4 separate regions of the Homo sapiens genome follow, and regions 1, 2 and 3 are each linked to region 4. Evidence: fine-mapped expression QTL. A gene starts in region 4. Each other region holds a variant in brackets. All regions are shown on one strand. Distances are between the middles of the regions. Region 1 holds the start of AP1G2 (adaptor related protein complex 1 subunit gamma 2). Region 2 overlaps OR6J1 (olfactory receptor family 6 subfamily J member 1). Region 3 overlaps AJUBA (ajuba LIM protein). Region 4 holds the start of RBM23 (RNA binding motif protein 23).

Region 1 (5,144 bases), 650 kb before region 4:
CCATCCTTCCCTGAAGGAGAGAAGGGAAGTGAAAAGTAGAGTAACTCCCCAGCATTTCCCTCTTTTTCTCCTCATCGGCCAGCCCCTCCTCCAGCCCCCTCTGGTGGCATGCCATGCCAAGAGCAACGTGTAAAGGAACAGAGAATATCCAATGCAGTCAAGTCCACCCTGCCCAGACTTTGCCACTGACTTCTCCCACCCTTCTGTCTCCCCCATAATAGTTTATTTGGTTGGTCTGGACTCACTTGTGGCCTTTGATTAAATTCCTAAGGGGCCTGAAGAAGACATTTCTACTGCAGAGGGTTAGAGGCACTTGAGCAAGGCCCCCACATCCCAACTCTGGGAGTTGTGGTGGGAGGAGGCACTTCTGGGGGATAGGACCAGACAAGATAACAGGAGCTCACATGGAAGCAGAAGCTGTGACAAGTTTAGTAGTCCCAAAATGGGTTATATCCCTTCCCCCTTTACATCAGAATCTTGTGAAATGGGAAAACAACAGAAGGAGGGGATCAAAGATAGCTGATCTCACATGCTTCCCAGGCAGGGCAGAGGTGGGAGTCAAACCCGGGTGACAGGTGGGTGGAGAGCCCTGTTTGAGGTTGTGGCTGATCCCTCTCTGGTATTAGTTTTTCCCCTGGGAGCAGGAAGCCCTAGGAAGAGGGGACTGCAGGGTCCCCAGGGGATCTTTCCTCCCTCCCCTGCATGAGGCAGAGGCAAGCTGCCTGCCAACCCCCTCCCTCAAGGAATGGCCTTGCCCAGGAATGCCCACCACACATACCCTCTTCTTTTTTTCTAGTCAAACTCTTGTTTATTCCTTGGCTTGCCTCCCTCCTTCCTCCCCTCTCAACCTTTACTTCTGATTTCTATTTCATGGAATTTGGGATTGAAGTTAAACTACAACAGTGCCGCCAACACCAAGTCTTGCAGGAAAAAAATACAAAGAAATTTAACAAAAAAAATATATTAATAAAAAAGTTCAAAAAAGGGGGGGGATTGTCATCTCCTTTGGGGTGCGATGGCTTCAAATCCAAACTGAGGCTCTCCGGGTGGTAAGGATGTGCGAGGAGGCCTCTTGAAGAACTCCAGGCCTATCATGCTGTCTCTCCGCTAAAGCCTGAGGCCCGAGGTCAGAGGATTCAGGAAGGCTCTGCAGTCGGCCCAGGAGGGCGGGGTCCCGTGGTGGAGGCGGGGAGAGGGAAGGACCGCACGGAGCACCAACCCCTGCTCGGCCCCGTACCAGGAAGCGCTGGGGGGCAGAGGAGCGGAGTTGAGGCAGAAGCCAGGTGAGGCTGGAGTCCTGGGGTAGGCAGGCTGTCGCTGCCGCTGCCGCTGCCTGAGATGGAAATCGGGGGAGGAAGCTCGCGGAAGAAACAGCGGAGGGTCGTGGAAAAAAAAGCAATGGCTGAGCTAGGGATGGGGTACCAGGTAGGGGGAGGAAACGGTAGAGAGAAATAGGTGGGGCTCCCGCGCATGCTCAATAGGAAGGGGCGCCGGTGGGGTGCGGACGCATGCGTAGTGGGCTTCTCGGGCGGTGGGGTGGGCGCGGAATTTGGAGACCCACTTCGGGAAAGGTAAAATGCGGGCGCAATTTTAGGGTACCTGTGGGACCCGGGCTCTTAGGGTCTTGACACAGGACGGGCCTGGGCCGAAAGCCCAGGCACGCCCGACCAGAGAGTGTTTCTCCACTCCCGGACTCTGCCAGTCAGGATGGTGGTGCCTTCGCTGAAGCTTCAGGACCTCATCGAAGAGATTCGCGGGGCCAAGACTCAGGCCCAGGAGCGGGAGGTGATCCAAAAGGAGTGTGCCCACATCCGGGCCTCCTTCCGCGACGGGGACCCAGTGCACAGGCACCGGCAGCTGGCCAAACTGCTCTACGTCCACATGTTGGGCTACCCCGCCCACTTTGGACAGGTACTGGCCAGGAATACCTCCCTCCTGAGCTTGATGAAGGCTAGTGGGGCAGAGTCCCAGACTCTCTCACCTGTTTATGCCCTGGTTTTTTAAATTCTACAATTTCAGAGTCTTCACAGCCTGCACTGCAAACCTCTTTCCCCATTGCTACCCCTACTGGTCATCAGCTGGCCTGAACCCTTCATTCTCTGGCCAGCCTCCTTTAGGGCAGGCATCTCCTCCTCTCCGCTCCCATCCTCCTCAACTCCTAGTTCCTCCTACCCACTAACGCCTGAATTTCCTAAGCTTCTCCTCTTGTTGAAGGGAGAGTGATGAGATATGATGCCCCACAGGTTAATCTGGTTTTAAAGAGGAAGATGGAACAGGGATGTGAGTGTCTATGGTTTCACCCCTGCCTCTTCCTGGTCTGCCCCCTTCACTATAGATGGAGTGCCTGAAACTGATCGCCTCCTCCAGATTCACAGACAAGAGGGTGGGCTACCTGGGGGCCATGCTTCTATTGGATGAGAGGCACGATGCCCACCTGCTCATTACCAACAGCATCAAGAAGTGAGAGGGTTCTGGCAATCACTTGGAATCAGGGAGATGGGAGAGTAGGGACCTTGGAAATCCCAGGGGACTGCCTGTTGTGGGTATTGAAAAGGACTGATTTTCTCAGAGGTTTGACTGACCGTCCTCCCAAACCCTGCAGTGACCTGAGCCAGGGGATTCAGCCAGTACAAGGCCTGGCCTTGTGCACTTTGAGCACCATGGGCTCTGCTGAGATGTGCCGAGACCTGGCCCCAGAGGTGGAGAAACTGCTCCTGCAGCCCAGTCCCTACGTGCGCAAGAAGGTGAGATGGCGGGACTCCTGGCACGTGCTCCTGCACACTGCCTGCTGCGTGCTATATAGTAGTAGATGCAGGGGTCCATCTCCTCTGACCCCTGTCTGAGGCCCCTGACCTCTGCAGGCTATTCTGACTGCAGTGCACATGATCCGGAAGGTCCCTGAACTCTCCAGTGTCTTCCTCCCACCCTGTGCCCAACTGCTTCATGAGCGTCACCATGGTAAGGCTGTGGGGCCCCCCATCCTTTGCTTCAGGTCTATGGACAGAAGAATTGAAAATCGGATGGGAACCCCAGCTCACAGGAGAAGGGTAGTGCACACACACAGGCACACACGCAATAGACTCTCTTGCCCCTGGCCCCCACCATTCACTTCCCCGACGCTGACCCCAGGCATCCTGCTGGGCACCATCAC[G/A]CTGATCACGGAGCTCTGCGAACGAAGCCCTGCAGCCCTCAGGCACTTCCGAAAGGTGGGCTGGTGAAGGGGCAGGCCCTGGGCCTGGAAGACAGGGTCAGTGGGGAAGGAATGGGGCTTTAGCTGGAGAGGATTAGAACGAATGCCCAAAGTTGTGCCCTCCCTCCAGGTGGTACCCCAGCTGGTACACATCCTCCGGACTCTGGTGACAATGGGATACTCCACAGAACACAGCATATCTGGAGTCAGCGACCCCTTCCTGCAGGTGGGGTGACCTTTCACTGCTGTATCCCTGGATCAGAGAGGGCATAGCAGTAAGACCATGACCAGTGGTTTCCTCCCAGAGAACACTGGTTCTCTCAGTGTCCTGGGCAGCAGAGTAGCAGGCACAGGATTGCTCGGGTCATCCCAGGACCTGTGAGGGGAGAGGGAATGCCTAAAAGTCAGGAAAATACAGTTTGTTAACAATTTTTTTTTTAAGCCTGTCCTAAACTCCCCTGGCCTCACACACCTCTGTTCCCCTCCTAGGACCAAGGGACCTGTGGAGGTGAGGAGGTGGGGGAAGGCTCTAGGGAGCGAGCCAGACCCTCACATGTTGGAGTTTTCTCCTCAGCCCCACGACTCCTTATCCTATGAACCCCTCCAACTTTCCATTTTCAACCCAACCTCAGGTCCAGATACTTCGTCTGCTTCGGATCCTGGGCCGGAACCACGAGGAGAGCAGTGAGACCATGAATGACTTGCTGGCCCAGGTGGGGCCTGGGAGGGCACTGGTTAGCTGTGTTGCTTGGAGACCCCATCAGCCCTGGGTGCCCCTCACATGACTCGTCACTGTGCAGTGGCCGTGTAATTGCCTCTCCATCTCCTCTAGACAGTGAACTCCATGAAGAAGGGACACAGTCTGTCTTAGTGCTATTGCCCCAGTGCCCAGGCTGGCCCTGGCACATAGTAGAGCCTCAGGGAACTTTGTTGGATGGTTGAAGGATGGACAGATAACATGTTGGAGTCCTTCAAGAATCCTGAGGATTACCTGGGCTTGTTGGCATGTGCCTGTAGTCCCAGCCACTCAGGAGGCTGAGGCAGGAGGATCATCAGAGCCTGGGAGGTCAAGGCTGCAGTGAGCTTTGGGCGACAGAGTGAGACCCTGTATCAAAAAAAGGAGACCTGAGGAGGGCCTTGAGCAGATACATCTCCTCTCTCATCCACTCAGGTGGCCACTAACACGGACACCAGCCGAAATGCCGGAAATGCGGTCCTGTTTGAGACAGTACTCACCATCATGGATATCCGCTCTGCAGCTGGCCTACGGGTATCACCCCTTATGCCTCTCCCACTACGGCCCCGCCCACCACCTCACCCACACAGGTCCTGCTTGCTGGTTTCTCCCTCCTAGCCCCATCATCTTGCGCCAATGTGTTCCCAGTCCTCAATGGCTGAGCAGGTTGCTCCTTTCCGACTGACCCCAACTTCTGCCTCTCATAGGTTCTAGCTGTCAACATTCTTGGTCGCTTCCTACTCAACAGTGACAGGAACATTAGGTAATAGTCCCAACTGTCTACCTAGGCTGTGCCACTGATCCCCTGGCCCTCTGCCCTCCTTCCTCCAGAGCCTCCTGATCCATTTCTCTCTTATCTTATCCCTATACCCAGGACAGGACGGGGAGTGGGGGCTGATGGCCATGGTATGATAGAACCTCCCCCATCCTGACCAGGTATGTAGCCCTGACATCACTGCTTCGACTGGTGCAGTCTGATCACAGTGCTGTGCAGCGGCATCGGCCCACTGTGGTGGAATGTCTACGGGAAACTGATGCCTCCCTCAGCCGGTGAGCAGTGATAGAGGGGACAGGAGGGCAGGGCAGAGGTTCCCAGTGCCCTGTGGCCAAGACTCGAGCCAGTTTAGAGCAGCTGGAGTAAGGGGACTAAGGGGGACAGGTCCCTGGGGAAGCAGAGGGCCTGAGGCATGGACCAGGATGACCTGGGCTACCTGCATG
Region 2 (5,144 bases), 280 kb after region 4:
AATATCCTTAAATCTGCCAGGCATGGTGGCTTGTCCCTGTAATCCCAGCACTTTGGGAGGTCAAGGCGGGAAGATCATGAGGTCAGGAGTTGGAGACCAGCCTGACCAACACGGTGAAACCTCATCTCTACTACAAATACAAAAATTAGCTGGGCATGGTGGCACACGCCTGTAATCCCAGCTTACTCAGGAGGCTGAGGCAGGAGAATCGCTTGAACCCTGGAGGTGGAGGTTGCAGTGAGCTGAGCTCGTGCCACTGCACTCCAGCCTGGGTGACAGAGCGAGACTCCATCTCAAATATATATATATATATATATATATATATATATATATATATATTCTTAAGTTGATTGTGGTGATGGACACACAGTTTTGTGAATACACTAAAAGCTATTGAATTGTATATTTTAAATGGGTGGAATGTATGGTACTTGAGTTATATATCAATAAAGCTGTTAAGAAAGAAAAGATCCTTGGCAATGCAAATGTGGTGAGTTGTCTGGAGAGACTGTCCATGTGCCAAGGCTATAGGAAGGTAGGGCAGGTCGTGAGGACAGGTTCTGTGCAGGAGTGGCTGATGTTCTGACTCAGCTTAGATGGGCAGAGGTCAACTCAGTCCTCGGGATTTCTGCAGTCCTCTTCCTTTACTAGATTATTCTTGTTTTTCCTAGTCCAATCCATATTCTTCTTAGTCACTGGTAATTACGTGGCCTCTGCTATCCAGAGTCCTTCCTAGGTATAGAAGCCCTATTTGACCTTGTCCCTGGAATCTATCAGTTTTCCTGGTAGTTGGTTTGCTTTCCAGACTAATGGCCCAGGACAAATATCCATGAAAAAACTTTGCCGTCCCTTAATTTTTCCTCTGTTTCTGTGATTTTTCTGAAATCAGGTTTCTTCACATCTCTTTTAGACTGAAAGCTGTGCGAGGGCATGCAATTTTTTTTACCATCTCTGCAACCTTTCATCAATCGCAGGCCCCACAACATAGTTGGCACTCAATATGTGTTTGCTAATATACATTTTCAATCCAACTATGTATATATATATATATCCTTTTAGAATAATTTTCTTTCCTTCTTTCTTTTTTCTTTTTCTTTATTTCTTCCTTCCTTCTTTCTTTCCTTCTTTCTTCCCTCCCTCCTTTCTTTCCTCCCTCCCTCCTTCCTTCCTTCCTTTCTTTCTTTTTCTTTCTTTCTTTCTTTCTCTCTCTTTCATTCTTTCTTTCTTTCTCTTCCTTCCTTCCATCCTTCCTTTCTCTCTCTCTCTCTTTCTTTCTTCTCTCCCCCCTTTCTTTCTTTCTTCCCTCCCTCCCTCCTTTCTTCCTTCCTTCCTCTCTCTCTCTTTCCTCTCTGTCTCTCTTTCTTCTCTTTCTTCCTTCCTTCCTTTCTTTCTTTCTTTCTTTCTTTCTTTCTTTCTTTCTTTCTTTCTTTCTTTCTTTCTTATCTTTCTCTCCCTCTCTGTCTCTCTTTCTCTCTCTCTCTCTTTCTTTCTTCAGAGTCTCACTCTGTCACCTAGGCTGGAGTGCAGTGCTGTGTGATCATGGCTCACTGAAGCTCCTGGGCTCAGGTGATTCTCCCACCTTTGCTTCACAAGTAGCTGGGACAACAGCTGCATGGCACCATGCCTGGCTAATTTTTGTATTTTTCATAGAGGCAGAGTTTCACCATGTTGCCCAGGCTAGTCTCAAACTCCTGACCTTAAGTCATCCTCCCACCTCGGCCTTCCATAGTGCTGGGATTACACGCGTTAGCCACCATGCCCAGCTTAACTTCTTTTATATAAAAGGAATATTTGTTCATTGTAAAAAAAAATACTGAAAATATCAAGAAGAGGCTGGGTGTGGTGGCTCATGCCTATGATCCCAACACTTTGGGAAGTAGAGGCAGGAGAATCGCTTGAGCCCAGGAGTTTGAGACCAGCCTGGGCAACATAGTGAGATCCCATAGCTACGAAAAGTAATGGCAAAACCGCAATTACTTTTGCAACAACCTAATAGCTGGGCATGGTGGCATGCACCTGTGATCCCAGATTCTTGGGAGGCTGAGGTGGGAGGATCACTTGATCCAGGGAGGCTGAGTCTGAAGTGGGCTGTATGCTACCACTACTGCACTCCAGCCTGGGTGACAGAGTAAGACTTTGTCTCCAAAAAAAAAAAAAAAAAAAAAATACATTCTCACTGTTGGTTGAGCTGAAGTTTATTCATTTCTTTATTGTATATTCAACTCTGTGAGCATATCATGATTTATTCTCCTGTCTTTGGACACTGTTCCCTCCTTCTCTTTTTTCCCCCTTCCTTCCTCCTTTCCTCCCATCCCCTCTACCCTCCTCTCCTCTCCTCCCCTCTCCTCCCCTCCCTTCCCCCTTTCCTTCCTTCCTTCCTTCCTTCCTTCCTTGCTTCCTTCCTTCCTTCCATCCTTCCTTCCCTCCCTCCCTCCCTCCCTCCCTCTCTCTTTTCCCTCCCTCCCCCTCTCCCCCTTCCCTATACATATTCTTGTTTGTCTCCTGGGGCATATGTGCAAGTTTCTCTACCTAGGAGTAGAATTATTGGGTCACAGAGTATGTGAATGTTCATCTTTACAAGGTAATGACAAATTATTTTCCAAAGCAATTATATAAATTTATGCTCCCACTAGCAGTGTAAATTTTTTTTTTTTTTAAATTTATTTTTTTATTGATAATTCTTGGGTGTTTCTCACAGAGGAGGATTTGGCAGGGTCATGGGACAATAGTGGAGGGAAGGTCAGCAGATAAACAAGTGAACAAAGGTCTCTGGTTTTCCTAGGCAGAGGACCCTGCGGCCTTCCGCAGTGTTTGTGTCCCTGATTACTTGAGATTAGGGAGTGGTGATGACTCTTAAGGAGC[A/G]TGCTGCCTTCAAGCATCTGTTTAACAAAGCACATCTTGCACCGCCCTTAATCCATTTAACCCTGAGTGGACACAGCACATGTTTCAGAGAGCACCGGGTTGGGGGTAAGGTCACAGATCAACAGGATCCCAAGGCAGAGGAATTTTTCTTAGTACAGAACAAAATGAAAAGTCTCCCATGTCTACTTCCTTCTACACAGACACGGCAACCATCCGATTTCTCAATCTTTTCCCCACCTTTCCCGCCTTTCTATTCCACAAAGCCGCCATTGTCATCCTGACCCGTTCTCAATGAGCTGTTGGGCACACCTCCCAGACGGGGTGGTGGCCGGGCAGAGGGGCTCCTCACTTCCCAGTAGGGGCGGCCGGGCAGAGGCGCCCCTCACCTCCCGGACGGGGCGGCTGGCCGGGCGGGGGGCTGACCCCCCCATCTCCCTCCCGGACGGGGTGGCTGGCCGGGCAGAGGGGCTCCTCACTTCCCAGTAGGGGCGGCCGGGCAGAGGCGCCCCTCACCTCCCGGACGGGGCGGCTGGCCTGGCGGGGGGCTGACCCCCCACCACCTCCCTCCCGGACGGGGTGGCTGCCGGGCGGAGACGCTCCTCACTTCCCAGATGGGGTGGCTGCCGGGCGGAGAGGCTCCTCACTTCTCAGACGGGGCAGCTGCCGGGCGGAGGGGCTCCTCACTTCTCAGATGGGGTGGTTGCCAGGCAGAGGGTCTCCTCACTTCTCAGACGGGGCGGCCGGGCAGAGACGCTCCTCACCTCCCAGACGGGGTCTCGGCCGGGCAGAGGCGCTCCTCACATCCCAGATGGGGCGGCGGGGCAGAGGCGCTCCCCACATCTCAGACGATGGGCGGCCGGGCAGAGACGCTCCTCACTTCCTAGATGTGATGGCGGCTGGGAAGAGGCGCTCCTCACTTCCTAGATGGGATGGCGGCCGGGCGGAGACGCTCCTCACTTTCCAGACTGGGCAGCCAGGCAGAGGGGCTCCTCACCTAGCAGTGTAAATTTTTTAAGTCTCCACATCCTCGTCAACACTTGTTATTGTCATATTTTTGCTTCTTGACAATATAGTGGGTATAAAATGGTATCTTGCTAGTGTCTTAATTTTTTTTATTTTTTTTTTATTTTTATTTTTTTTATTGATCATTCTTGGGTGTTTCTCGCAGAGGGGGATTTGGCAGGGTCATAGGACAATAGTGGAGGGAAGGTCAGCAGATAAACAAGTGAACAAAGGTCTCTGGTTTTCCTAGGCAGAGGACCCTGCGGCCTTCCGCAGTGTTTGTGTCCCTGGGTACTTAAGATTAGGGAGTGGTGATGACTCTTAACGAGCATGCTGCCTTCAAGCATCTGTTTAACAAAGCACATCTTGCACCGCCCTTAATCCATTTAACCCTGAGTGGACACAGCACATGTTTCAGAGAGCACAGGGTTGGGGATAAGGTCACAGATCAACAGGATCCCAAGGCAGAGGAATTTTTCTTAGTACAGAACAAAATGAAAAGTCTCCCATGTCTACTTCTATCCACACAGACCCGGCAACCATCTGATTTCTCAATTTTTTCCCCACCCTTCCCGCCTTTCTATTCCACAAAACCGCCATTGTCATCATGGCCCATCCCCAATGAGCCGCTGGGCACACCTCCCAGACGGGGTCGTGGCCGGGCAGAGGGGCTCCTCACTTCCCAGTAGGGGCGGCCGGGCAGAAGCGCCCCTCACCTCCCGGATGGGGCGGCTGGCCAGGCGGGGGGCTGACCCCCCCACCATCCTCCCGGACGGGGCGGCTGGCCAGGCAGAGGGGCTCCTCACTTCCCAGTAGGGGCGGCCGGGCAGAGGCCTCCCTCACCTCCCGGACGGGGCGGCCGGCCGGGCGGGGGCTGACCCCCCCACCTCCCTCCCGGACAGGGCGGCTGGCCGACCCCACCCCCCCCGCCTCCCTCCCGGACGGGGCGGCTGGCCGGGCAGAGGGGCTCCTCACTTCCCAGTAGGGGCGGCCGGGCAGAGGCGCCCCTCACCTCCCGAACGGGGCGGCTGGCCAGGCGGGGGGCTGATCCCCCCACCTCCCTCCCGGACGGGGCGGCTGGTCGGGCGGGGGGCTGACCCCCCCCACCTCCCTCCCGGACGGGGCAGCTGGCCGGGCGGGGGGCTGACCCCCCCACCTCCCTCCCGGATGGGGCGGCTGGCCAGGCGGGGGGCTGACCCCCCCACCTCCCTCCCGGACGGGGCGGCTGGCCGGGCAGGGGGCTGACCCCCCCTCCCCCCTCCCGGACGGGGCGGCTGGCC
Region 3 (5,144 bases), 51 kb before region 4:
TGCTCTTCCATCCCTTCCATCCTTCCCTTCCCACCCCATCCCTTTCTTCCAGTTATTAGGAGTCAGGTGTTGAGCAGGGCAGACTCCTAAGATACCCTCAGTGTCCAAGGTGCCTAGGCTGAGGTGAACTAGGTGCCTTCTTCCCTAGGACTGCCGGATGCAGCTGAGTGATGAGGAAGGCTGCTGCTGTTTCCCTCTGGATGGGCACTTGCTCTGCCATGGTTGCCACATGCAGCGGCTCAATGCCCGACAACCCCCTGCCAACTATATCTGAGCTGCAATCACTGCTGCTGCTGTCACCCTGCAGACAAACTGCTGTGGCCAGTGGGCCCCTCTGAGGCCAGCCAAGGCAAAGAATGCACTCTGCAGGCCTGGCAGAAGAGTCCTCTGGGGAGGACCCCAAGGGCCGGAGACCCAAAGATCATGATATTCCAAATGGATTGTGGAAGAGAAACCTTATATTTACCAGGGTGGGGGCGACTGGCCTTTTTCCCATGTGTGCAGTCTGAGCTTAGGCACACACAGGAGGGTTCCAGGACTTTCTGAACATCTGATTCTGTATCTTCAGTATATATATTTTGTTTGTTTTAGAGATGGGATCTCACCATGTTGCCCAGGCTAGTCTTGAACTCCTGGGCTCGAATGATCCTCCCACCTTGGCCTCCCAAAGTGCTGGGATTATAGGCGTAAGCCACTGTGTCTGGCCTAGTGTATGATTATGCATGAGTCACGCAATGTTCTGGTCCTGGATTCCAGGAGTAGAGGACCTAGCTTTAAATCAATTAGTTTCAGCTAAACTGACTAGAACCAAATCAAAGTGTAATTCTCCCTCCAGCTCCCCCAAACCCCAGAGTTTTGGGGTTGTGGTTGATGCAGTGTGGGATGTCCCTGAGAGGTAGCAAGTCTAGGGTGGTGAGTTCCTGCTAGGCAACCAAATTTAAGCTCCTCACTTTTTGTGACACATGGTGTCAGATATGGGGTCCCGCACCTATATCTGGATGAAGAGGTAGAAACTCTGGACCTCATTAATGAGTTATTTCTTGGCCTTCTTCTAAGGACTAGGAGAGCTCCTTATCTGTCTGAGAATGGGGACCAGCTCTGAGTGGGGTTGCTGCCTGTATTCCCTGTTTCTCAGGAACTTACATGGGTCTGGGGAGGCTAGGTAGGTGATTGTACGTGGTTGCTCTTCTCCTTGGCTGGGGGAGGTAATGAGCAGATCTCTGTGGGTGTGGAGCTTGTTGGGGGGATGTCTAGGAAGCTTCAGCTTAGCCACATTCCCAAGTTTAGGTGCACTGAGCCATATAGCCCAGTGTATGCATGTGTGGGTGTGTTCATGCACACACACACTCTCTCTCTTGTCTCTCTGTCTCTCTCTCACTCTTTCTTACTCTCTTCTCAGGTCACTTGTACACTTGGTTTCCTAGTAGAAGCTCACTTGCCACCTCTCAGAGGGGTCCCGGATTGCATCCATCACAATCCCAAAACTAGAGTTGGGGGGAACTGGAGGGAGCAAAACACTGATTTGATACTAGTCAGTTTGCTTGAAACTAGTTCACCTAAAGCTAGATCTCTTAAAACCAATTTACTGAAAACTTGTTTGCTTAAAGTTAATGACTTAATGACTAATTTGCCAAAAGCTCAATTCCTATTTTGGTGTGTTTATATCCATTTAGGTGTCCTATTCTTTTTTGTCATGCTTTGGATATTTCAAGGATTTATATCTATTCATCCAAGAGTACTTCTGAGCTATTATCAGCAACATAAATTTATCAAATTTGCAGCACTTTGTAAATGATGAGATTGCTTCCTACCTTTATGGATGTCTTTTTCTATGTTATCTACCATTCAAAAACTTTTTTAAAAAGTTTAAAGTTTCTAGCAATAAATACAATTGGTACAGACATTTTGTGTATCATTTTTTTGTTTCTTAATCCAATATTCCTTTACAAATTAAATGCCTTGAAAAATATAATGGAGTTCAATGTGATTTTGATGCTTTGGTCTAACTTCTACATTCCTACTGTTAAAAAGGCCAGTATATCTTAAACAAATGAATAGGCATGAGGCATATTCAGTTGACTTACAATGAAAAGTTATACAGACAACAGTAATAACTAAAAGGGTGAATCTGCTAAATCCTTTTGAAATGCTGCAGATTTGATAAATATTTATTTTAGACTAATTGGTTTTAGGTGAATTGGTTTTAGGCAAATTAATTTAGTAATCTTTGATCTTTAGTCTTCATTTTCTGTCACTCAGTGAGTTTCTTACTGGAAATGATGACTCCTGACAACAGAATTTCCACATTTGGGGGCTATTCTAAGGTGACTATGCCAGCCAACCTGGGAAATACATAAAAGAGATCTCTGAGTGAGAGGGAAAGAGGTCAGATTTATACAACTGAGCGCCAGAGGGGAAAATGCACCTTGTTGGAGTGAGAAATGTTCTGAAACTGAATTACTTCTTGTACAGCTGAGATAGCTTCTTCTGAACTATTATTAAATAAGTGAATACAAAGGCCCTATGATGGGAAATCCAGACAAGCTTGTGTAACTTTACATCCATCCCCTCAGGGATATTTTTTTTTTTTTTTTTTTTTTTGAGACAGAGTCTCACTCTGTCGCCCAGGCTGGAGTGCAGTGGCGCTATCTCGGCTCACTGCAAGCTCCGCCTCCCGGATTCACACCATTCTCCTGCCTCAGCCTCCCAAGTAGCTGGGACTACAGGCGCCCGCCACCACACCCGGCTAATTTTTGTATTTTTAGTAGAGACGGGGTTTCACTGTGTTAGCCAGGCTGGTCTCGATCTCCTGACCTTGTGATCTGCCTGTCTCGGCCTCCCAAAGTGCTGGGATTACAGGCATGAGCCACTGTGCCCGGCTCTCAGGGTTTTTTTTTTTGACAGAATCTCGCTCTCTTGCCCAGGCTGAAGTGCAATGGTGCAATCTCAGCTCACTGCAACCTCCGTCTCCTGGGTTCAAGTGATTCTCCTGCCTCAGCCTCCTGAGTAGCTGGGATTATAGGCCGGCGCCACCACACCTGGCTAATTTTTGTATTTTTAGTAGAGACAGGGTTTTGCCATGTTGGCCAGGGTGATCTCAAACTCCTGACCTCAGGTAATCCGCCTGCCTTGGCCTCCCAAAGTGCTGGGATTACAGTTGTCAGCCACTGAGCCCTGCCTCTTTTTTTTTTTTTTTTTTTTAAG[A/T]GTTGGGAGTCTTGCCCAGGCACAGTGGCTCACCCCTGTAATCCCAGCACTTTGGGAGGCTGAGGTGGGAGGATCATGAGGTCAGGAGATCAAGACCATCCTGGCCAACATGATGAAACCTCGTCTCTACTAACAATAAAAAAATTAGCCAGGCATGGTGGGGTGCACCTGTAGTCCCAGCTACTTGGGAGGCTGAGGCAGGAGAATCGCTTGAACCCGGGAGGCGGAGATTGCAGTTAGCCATCGCGCCACTGCACTCCAGCCTGGGCAACAGAGCAAGACTCCATCTCAAAAAGAAAAAAAAAGGCCAGGTGCGGTGGCTCACACCTGTAATCCCAGTACTTTGGGAGGCCGTGGCAGGCAGATCACGAGGTCAGGAGATTGAGACCATCCTGGCTAACACGGTGAAACCCCGTCTCTACTAAAAGTACAAAAAATTAGCCAGGCGTGGTGGTGGGCTCCTGTAGTCCCAGCTACTCGGGAGGCTGAGGCAGGAGAATGGCGTGAACCCGAGAGGCAGAGGTTGCAGTGAGCTGAGATCATGCCAGTGCACTCCAGCCTCGGCAACAGAGCAAGCCTCCATCTCAAAAAAAAAAAAAAAAAAAAAGAGTTGGGAGTCTCACTCTGTCACCCAGGCTGGAGTGCAGTGGCACAATTATGGCTCACTGCAATCTCTGCCTCCCGGGTTCAAGCGATTCTCCCGCCTCAGCCTCCCAAGTAGCTGGGACTACAGGTGTGCACAACCATGACTGGCTAAGTTTAAAAAATTTTTTTTTAGAGACAGCATCTCACTATGTTGCCCAGGCTGGTCTTGAATTTCTGGCCTCAAGTGATCTCCCACTTTGGCCTCCTAAGTCACTGGGATTACAAGCATGAGCTTCTGTGCCCAGCTCCTGACCCTTTGTTTCTTACTCTGATTTTGGCCTCTTCTGTTCCTGATCCGACTCATTCCTTTCTAGGTCTGTGCTGATTGTCCTAGCCTTGGGGCTCCCCAAGACTCTGTTCTTGCCACTGAGGCTACTTCTTCCTGAGGAAAAATAAATGATAACAGCTGATAAGGGCAGGCCATGAAAAAAGAGCAGTCCTAGCCACCCCAGCACCATCACTGGCAGGCTCCCAGGTGTACCCTGCATCACAAGAGCTTCCCTTCTTCCTATTTGCTGGGAGACTAATCCTCCTCAATATTTCTGTTTAGTATTTACAGTTTTTTAGTATTTACAGTTGATGATGAAAGATTCGTGAGGTGCTGCCAAATATACATCAAAAGGTGGAGCTTGTTTGGCCAACTTGCCACCTGATTTAATCAACAACTACTAGTGCTGAGATGCAGAAAGGGGGAAAATGGAGGAATTATGGACCAAGTCTGTCTTTATAGATGACAGTCACAGGACAAGGGTTAGGCTTTGACTGCAGACTTCAGTCTTTGCTCTGGCCAGCCCTGTTCACCACAGGCCTGAATGGGTTATCAAAAATAAAGCTGGTGGCCGGGCGCGGTGGCTCACATCTGTAATCCCAGCACTTTGGGAGGCTGAGGCAGGTAGAACACCTGAGGTCAGGAGTTTGAGACCAGCCTGGCCAACATGGTGAAACGCTATCTCTACTAAAAACACAAAAAATTAGTCAGGCGTGGTAGTGGGAGCCTGTAATCCCAGCTACTCGGGAGGCTGAGGCAGGAGAATGGCGTGAACCTGGGAGGTGAAGCTTGCGGTGAGCCGAGATCATGCCACTGCACTCCAGCCTGGGCGACAGAGCGAGACTCCGTCTCAAAGAAAAAAAAAAAAAAAAGCCGGGCGCAGTGGCTCACACCTGTAATCCCAGCACTTTGGGAGACCGAGGTGGGTGGATCATGAGGTCAGAAGATCAAGACCATCCTGGCTAACACGGTGAAACCCTGTCTCTACTAAAAAATACAAAAAAATTAGCCGGGCGTGGTGGTGAGT
Region 4 (5,144 bases):
TCTGTTTTTTCATTATTTTGTCCACACAGGTATCCGTCCAGAGACTCACTCTCCTGGGATGTTCTCATGGTTTCCCATCCTCTTCCCTATTAAGGTAGGAACTGCTTTTAAGACTCTCTAGTTAAGCAGTAACCTTTGCCTTTGGTGTTGTGCTTCTTTCCTTCTCCCAGGAAGATAGTTGACTATGACTCATGTTCTCCTGATTTCATATGCTCTTGGATCCCAGTGGTAGGTGTTGGGAGTATTTGGAGTGGCCTTCTGCCTGGCTTTCCCGCATCTACTCTGGCTACTCTTCTGTCTGTTCTCTACTTTGAGCAAGAGTCATCTTTTAAAAACTCAAATTTGATCTTATCTCTCTTGCTGTCTTTTTTTTTTTTTTTTTTTTAAAGAGACGGAGTCTCACTCTGTCGCCCAGGCTGGAGTGCAGTGGCACAATTTCGGCTCACTGCAAGCTCCGCCTCCCGGGTTCATGCCATTCTCCTGCCTCAGCCTCCCTGAGGCTGAGATTACAGGTGCCAGCCACCACACCCGGCTAATTCTTGTATTTTTAGTAGAGACGGGGTTTTACCGTGTTAGCCAGGATGGTCTCGATCTCCTGACCTCATGATCCGCCCACCTCAGCCTCCCAAAGTGCTGGGATTACAGGCGTGAGCCACCGCGCCTGGCCTGATCTTATCTCTCTTTTTTGCTTAAAACTCTTCAATGCCTTCCCATTGTCTTTAGGATAAAAGTCAAAATCTGGGACATTGCTTGTAAGACTTGATGTGATCGAGTGTTTGCTTGCCTTTGCAGCTACTGTCCCCTTGCTTACACTGCTTCAGCCTTATGGACCTTCTTTTTGTTCTAATTGTCTATCTTCTTTCCTACCTCAGGCTTTCATGCCTTTCTCTTGCCTGTAGAGTTCTTTGCTTGTCTCTTCACACAGTTAACCTATCTTCTAGGTCTTCTTTAAACATTTTTATTGTGAGATAAACTTTCTCTGATCTCCTAGACTAGGTTAGTGTTCCCTTTCATAGGTGTTTTTCTGACTCTGTACATGTTCACAGCTCTCACCACACCTTTGATTATTTGTGTTCTGATAGGCTTCAAATAACTTTCATGAGGGTTGGGACAGTCTTGTCATGTTTATCATTTTATCTCCACACCTACCTTAATACATTGCCATGTATAATTCATAGCTTCACCCTGAACCTTCCTGTCTTTCTTCTTACAGCAGCCCATAACGGTACGTGAAGGCCAAACCATCTGTGTGCGTTTCTGGCGATGCAGCAATTCCAAGAAGGTGTGGTATGAGTGGGCTGTGACAGCACCAGTCTGTTCTGCTATTCATAACCCCACAGGCCGCTCATATACCATTGGCCTCTAGCCCTGCGTGCCAAGTGTCCAGAGCCTTGGAAGCAGCTTCAGGTTCTGCTCCTGTAGTACAGAAGGTGCAGTACATCTATGGGCTGTGATTCCCCTTGCCCATCAGAGAGGAGCATTTCAATCTGCTTTCCTGCCTTACATCAAGGTGGGCAAGGGATTATAATTAATTGCAGGGCTCAAGCCACCAATCTATGAAGACCTCAGGCCAGGGGGTGAGGAATTAGTGCTGGATTTGAAGCTACGCACTCAGCCTCAAGAACTCCCTGGAATATCCCTGAGAACATGGGGTTTGAACGGATTTTCAGCCTTTTTCTGTTCTTGTTTTGATGGTTTTGTGTAAGAGGAAATACAAATAAAGTTATAGCCCTTTACTGCACGACCATGCTGCCCCCTGCCACTATTTTCCCACACCTCACTTAGACCCAGGCATGTTCAGATCTGTCCTCTTAGCCTATCCAAGACCCAAAGGGGCCTAGTTGTATTCCCTACTTAGGAAGCTGAGCAATGACTATTGTAGTCCTGGATATAGGCCTTTCTGACCAGCTACAGTGAGCTCTTGTCCATTAGAACCTACAGTTAGGCTTTTCTCTGGGGAGGAGGCATAGAGTTTGCCACCTTGGAAAAAGATGGAATAGTGAGTGAAGCCAGTTTCTCTTCTGTATTCTTGAGCTACTGCACGGGCAACTGGTTACCTCTCCTTTGTTACCTCTTGGGAAGACTGGAATCCATCCAGGAATCTCCAGCAAGAAGCTACCTGTTTTTTTTGAATAAAACCACAGGGTTACAGTTTGAAGTCCTAAGAGATCATCTAGTCCAATTTTCCATTTTACAGAGGGGGAGTTTGAAATGGGTACAATGATGTGATATTAGTATCCAAGTCAGAATTGGAAGTCAGGTCCTCCGACTCTGGCTCTCCCCATGTTATAACCAGCTACATTTTTGGTAGCTACAGTAGACCACAGAAGTGTCTAGGGGCTCCTGGAGGCCCCTGGAAAGTGAGGGTGGACATCAGTTCCTTCTTTCCGGTTAGAGGACTCAGTACTGCTACATCCAAGGAGTCACCTGAGAAACTTTCAAATTTACCCTTGCAGTGGGAAATGTGGGGGTACTGATTTGAACGGAAGTTATGACCTGTGGGAGCAGGCCATGACGATAGGGCAGAGTGTGGGCCAAGACAAGTCTGTGGCAAGATCTGCTTTTCCCTGGTCCCAAGCACCGAGGTCAGGAGAGGTGGTCGGGAAGGTTGTTTAGGTAGCCGGCTCAGAACGGGGATTTCGAGTTCAGCATCCCCGGACGTTAAACAAACGCCGCTGTTCTCTACAAAGCTTAACCTTAACGACCGACGTGACTCCTTCAGCAAATCCGAGTAGGGACGGCCAAGGATGTAAATTGTGCCTCCTCGTTGGCTCCGCCCATCGCACTGGTCTAGTCTACGCGAGCACCAGGAGTGGGGTTGGTGGCTTCTTCACTCCCGTTTTCAGTCCCGTTTTCCCCGCCCTCCGCAAGTCATTTAACCAATGAGAGAGTGATGGGCGGCTACCAAAGGACGCTTCCATTTTCTGGAGTCTCTGAGGTTAGCCAATCAATGGGAACTCGGTGGTTGCTAAGACGCATTTGAGTTTGCTCCACCCATACTTAGGACTTTAGCCAATGAGAACCTGTACTTTGGACGGTTGCCGCGAAACCAGTGAGGTTATTTCCAAAGCCGGGGAGTCTTGGCGCATGCGCAGATTGGGGAAGGTTCTGGAAGACGGCAGAGCTGCCGCCATTTTGCGGGAAGAGGAGGCTCTGTACCTGCAGTGCTGCTTTTCTTGCCTAGACTCTAGGAACTATCCGAGCTCCACTCCCCACAACATACTCAAAGGAACGGAGAGAACCGGGACCCCCCTGCGGGGACCCGGAACTGGTGAGAAACCCCAAAACCCGGTCCCCACCAGACGTCACCAATGCGTGACGTTGCTGCACGGCGCCTCCCCCCTGACGTCACGGGCAGAAAATGGCGTCACGAAGAGATTCAGGCGAACTTTTAACATTAAAAAAACCTTTGTTTGTTTTGACCTGGAAGTGTTAGCTACTTAAATGTAGCCCACTGCCACGATTTTAGAGTTGGGCACCCTCGTGGCTGTATCTTGCACCGATAAAGATGCGGTTTCTAGAATCCTGTGATTTTTCTTTCCGGGTCTCTGCAGCCGTGACACTTAGGGTCGCCCACACTGGAGAGGGAGCATCGACCCTCCGCGGCCTGAGAGGACACGCATCATCAGTTTCAGCCACTCGCACCACCATTCAGAGAGAGAGAAGGGAATTGAGCTTTCTTCCTCAATCTCTAGTCTGTCGAAGATTCATGTTCACTATGTTGACCTTTATGGGCTTTTCCCATTTAACTTTTTCAAGCACTCATTCCAGTAGGCGTATTATGATGCCACATATGAAGATTGAGCCCTGGGACACTGGCTCCCGCAGAGATTGTGCCAGTTGGTTGCCTATAGGACCTCTTTTTTTTTATTTTTTTAAGGCGGAGTGTCGCTTTGTCACCCAGGCTGGAGTGGAGTGGCGCGATCTCGGCTCACTGCATCCTGTCTCCCGGGTTCTAGCGATTCCCCTGCCTCAGCCTCCCGAGTAGCTGGGATTACAGGCGCCTGCCACAACGCCCGGCTAATTTTTGTATTTTTAATAGAGATGGGGTTTTGCCATGTTAGCCAGGCTGACCTCGAACTCCTGACCTCAGGTGATCCACCCGCCTCGGCCTCCCAAAGTGCTGGGATTACAGGCGTGAGCCACCGCGCCCGGCCTATAGGACCATTTTTTAAAGCTACACAACATGGGGAGGGTGGTCCTTCAAGTAGCTTTTATCGTTCTCATTGTTCCTCTTTTGTTAAGCTGCCTTCAGTTTGTAGGTGTTTGTGCCCAGCTAAGTGATCAGACCCTGGGGATGGCGCTACCATCACCCCTGGGGCTCCAGCTTTTCGTGAATTCTTCCCGAATTGGTCTGACAGTGGTTCTCTCTGCTCCTTTAGCAGTGGGGTCTATCTGTTGGCTTGTGCTATGACGAGGTCTAGGAACTGACGTGATTGTGGGTCTCTAATACTGTTTTTGGAGCAGGATGGAAGAAAACATACTCTATGTGGATGAGATTGAGTGGACCTTGACCCATAAGTTGGGACATGAAGAGAGCGTTTGAAAACTACCAACCTGGGCCGGGTGCAGTGGCTCACGCCTGTAATCCCAGCACTTTGGGTGGCCGAGGCGGGCGGATCACGAGGTCAGGAGATCGCGACCATCCTGGCTAACACGGCGAAACCCCGTCTCTACTAAAAATACAAAAAAAAAACAAAAAAGAAGAAAAAAGAAAAAACTACCAGCCTGAAAATGCATAGTGTTTGCTACCTTATTGCTTTTAGCACATCTAGAAAGACACTAAACCCAGTGAGATTGCAAGTTTCAAAATATTGTGTTGTATATGGCTTTGCTTAAACGGATATATTTGTTTCTGAGTGAAAACTTTTTACGTAGAGGTTTATTTGTAGAGGCTTGTAAACTTAAGTGTAAGTTTTAGTGTGTGTGTTAAGTTGTTCTTACCCCGCATTAGCACTCAACAATGAGCAGTTCTTGAAATCAAGCATTTCATTTGGAGGGGAAAAAGCAGATTGTAAAAAATAGTTCATAACAGAAAATTTGTGTAGACTTGGCAGCAAAAATGACTGAAACAGCTTGAGTATAAAAAACTTTTCTTTTTAGGCCGGGCTCGGTGGCTCATGTCTGTAATCCCAGCCCTTTGG

Evidence for each region.
Region 1: its variant is fine-mapped to the expression of RBM23 in minor salivary gland (GTEx, PIP 0.98).
Region 2: its variant is fine-mapped to the expression of RBM23 in nucleus accumbens (GTEx, PIP above 0.99).
Region 3: its variant is fine-mapped to the expression of RBM23 in whole blood (INTERVAL, PIP above 0.99).

What each region holds. Positions count from the first base shown.
Region 1 is chr14:23,563,878-23,569,021 of GRCh38, reverse strand. It overlaps AP1G2 (adaptor related protein complex 1 subunit gamma 2), which reads left to right and starts at 1,231. Exons shown (of 22, transcript NM_003917.5): 1 at 1,231-1,283; 2 at 1,703-1,911; 3 at 2,336-2,460; 4 at 2,603-2,744; 5 at 2,862-2,958; 6 at 3,130-3,206; 7 at 3,321-3,416; 8 at 3,823-3,903; 9 at 4,362-4,460; 10 at 4,634-4,689; 11 at 4,863-4,976. The coding sequence starts at 1,708. JPH4 (junctophilin 4) reads left to right here. Exons shown (of 6, transcript NM_001146028.2): 6 at 1-984. It overlaps AP1G2-AS1 (AP1G2 antisense RNA 1), which reads right to left. Exons shown (of 4, transcript NR_110555.1): 2 at 4,182-4,295; 3 at 1,600-3,566; 4 at 946-1,333. RefSeq lists silencers at 40-139, 1,129-1,178 and enhancers at 1,659-1,898, 1,929-2,018. The variant G/A (reference allele first, on the strand shown) is at 3,152.
Region 2 is chr14:22,637,508-22,642,651 of GRCh38, reverse strand. All of the region lies in intron 1 of OR6J1 (olfactory receptor family 6 subfamily J member 1), which reads left to right. Among named protein-coding and RNA genes, the nearest start is that of OR6J1, 4.3 kb to the left of the region's middle. The variant A/G (reference allele first, on the strand shown) is at 2,863.
Region 3 is chr14:22,968,573-22,973,716 of GRCh38, reverse strand. AJUBA (ajuba LIM protein) reads left to right here. Exons shown (of 8, transcript NM_032876.6): 8 at 149-2,540. The coding sequence ends at 274. Among named protein-coding and RNA genes, the nearest start is that of AJUBA, 11 kb to the left of the region's middle. The variant A/T (reference allele first, on the strand shown) is at 3,205.
Region 4 is chr14:22,917,126-22,922,269 of GRCh38, reverse strand. RBM23 (RNA binding motif protein 23) reads left to right here and starts at 3,121. Exons shown (of 14, transcript NM_001077351.2): 1 at 3,121-3,271. It overlaps PRMT5 (protein arginine methyltransferase 5), which reads left to right. Exons shown (of 17, transcript NM_006109.5): 16 at 30-94; 17 at 1,214-1,741. The coding sequence ends at 1,366. PRMT5-AS1 (PRMT5 antisense RNA 1) reads right to left here and starts at 2,814. Exons shown (of 2, transcript NR_120600.1): 1 at 1,150-2,814. RefSeq lists a silencer at 2,747-3,046 and enhancers at 3,307-3,376, 3,467-3,576, 3,647-3,816, 4,305-5,069.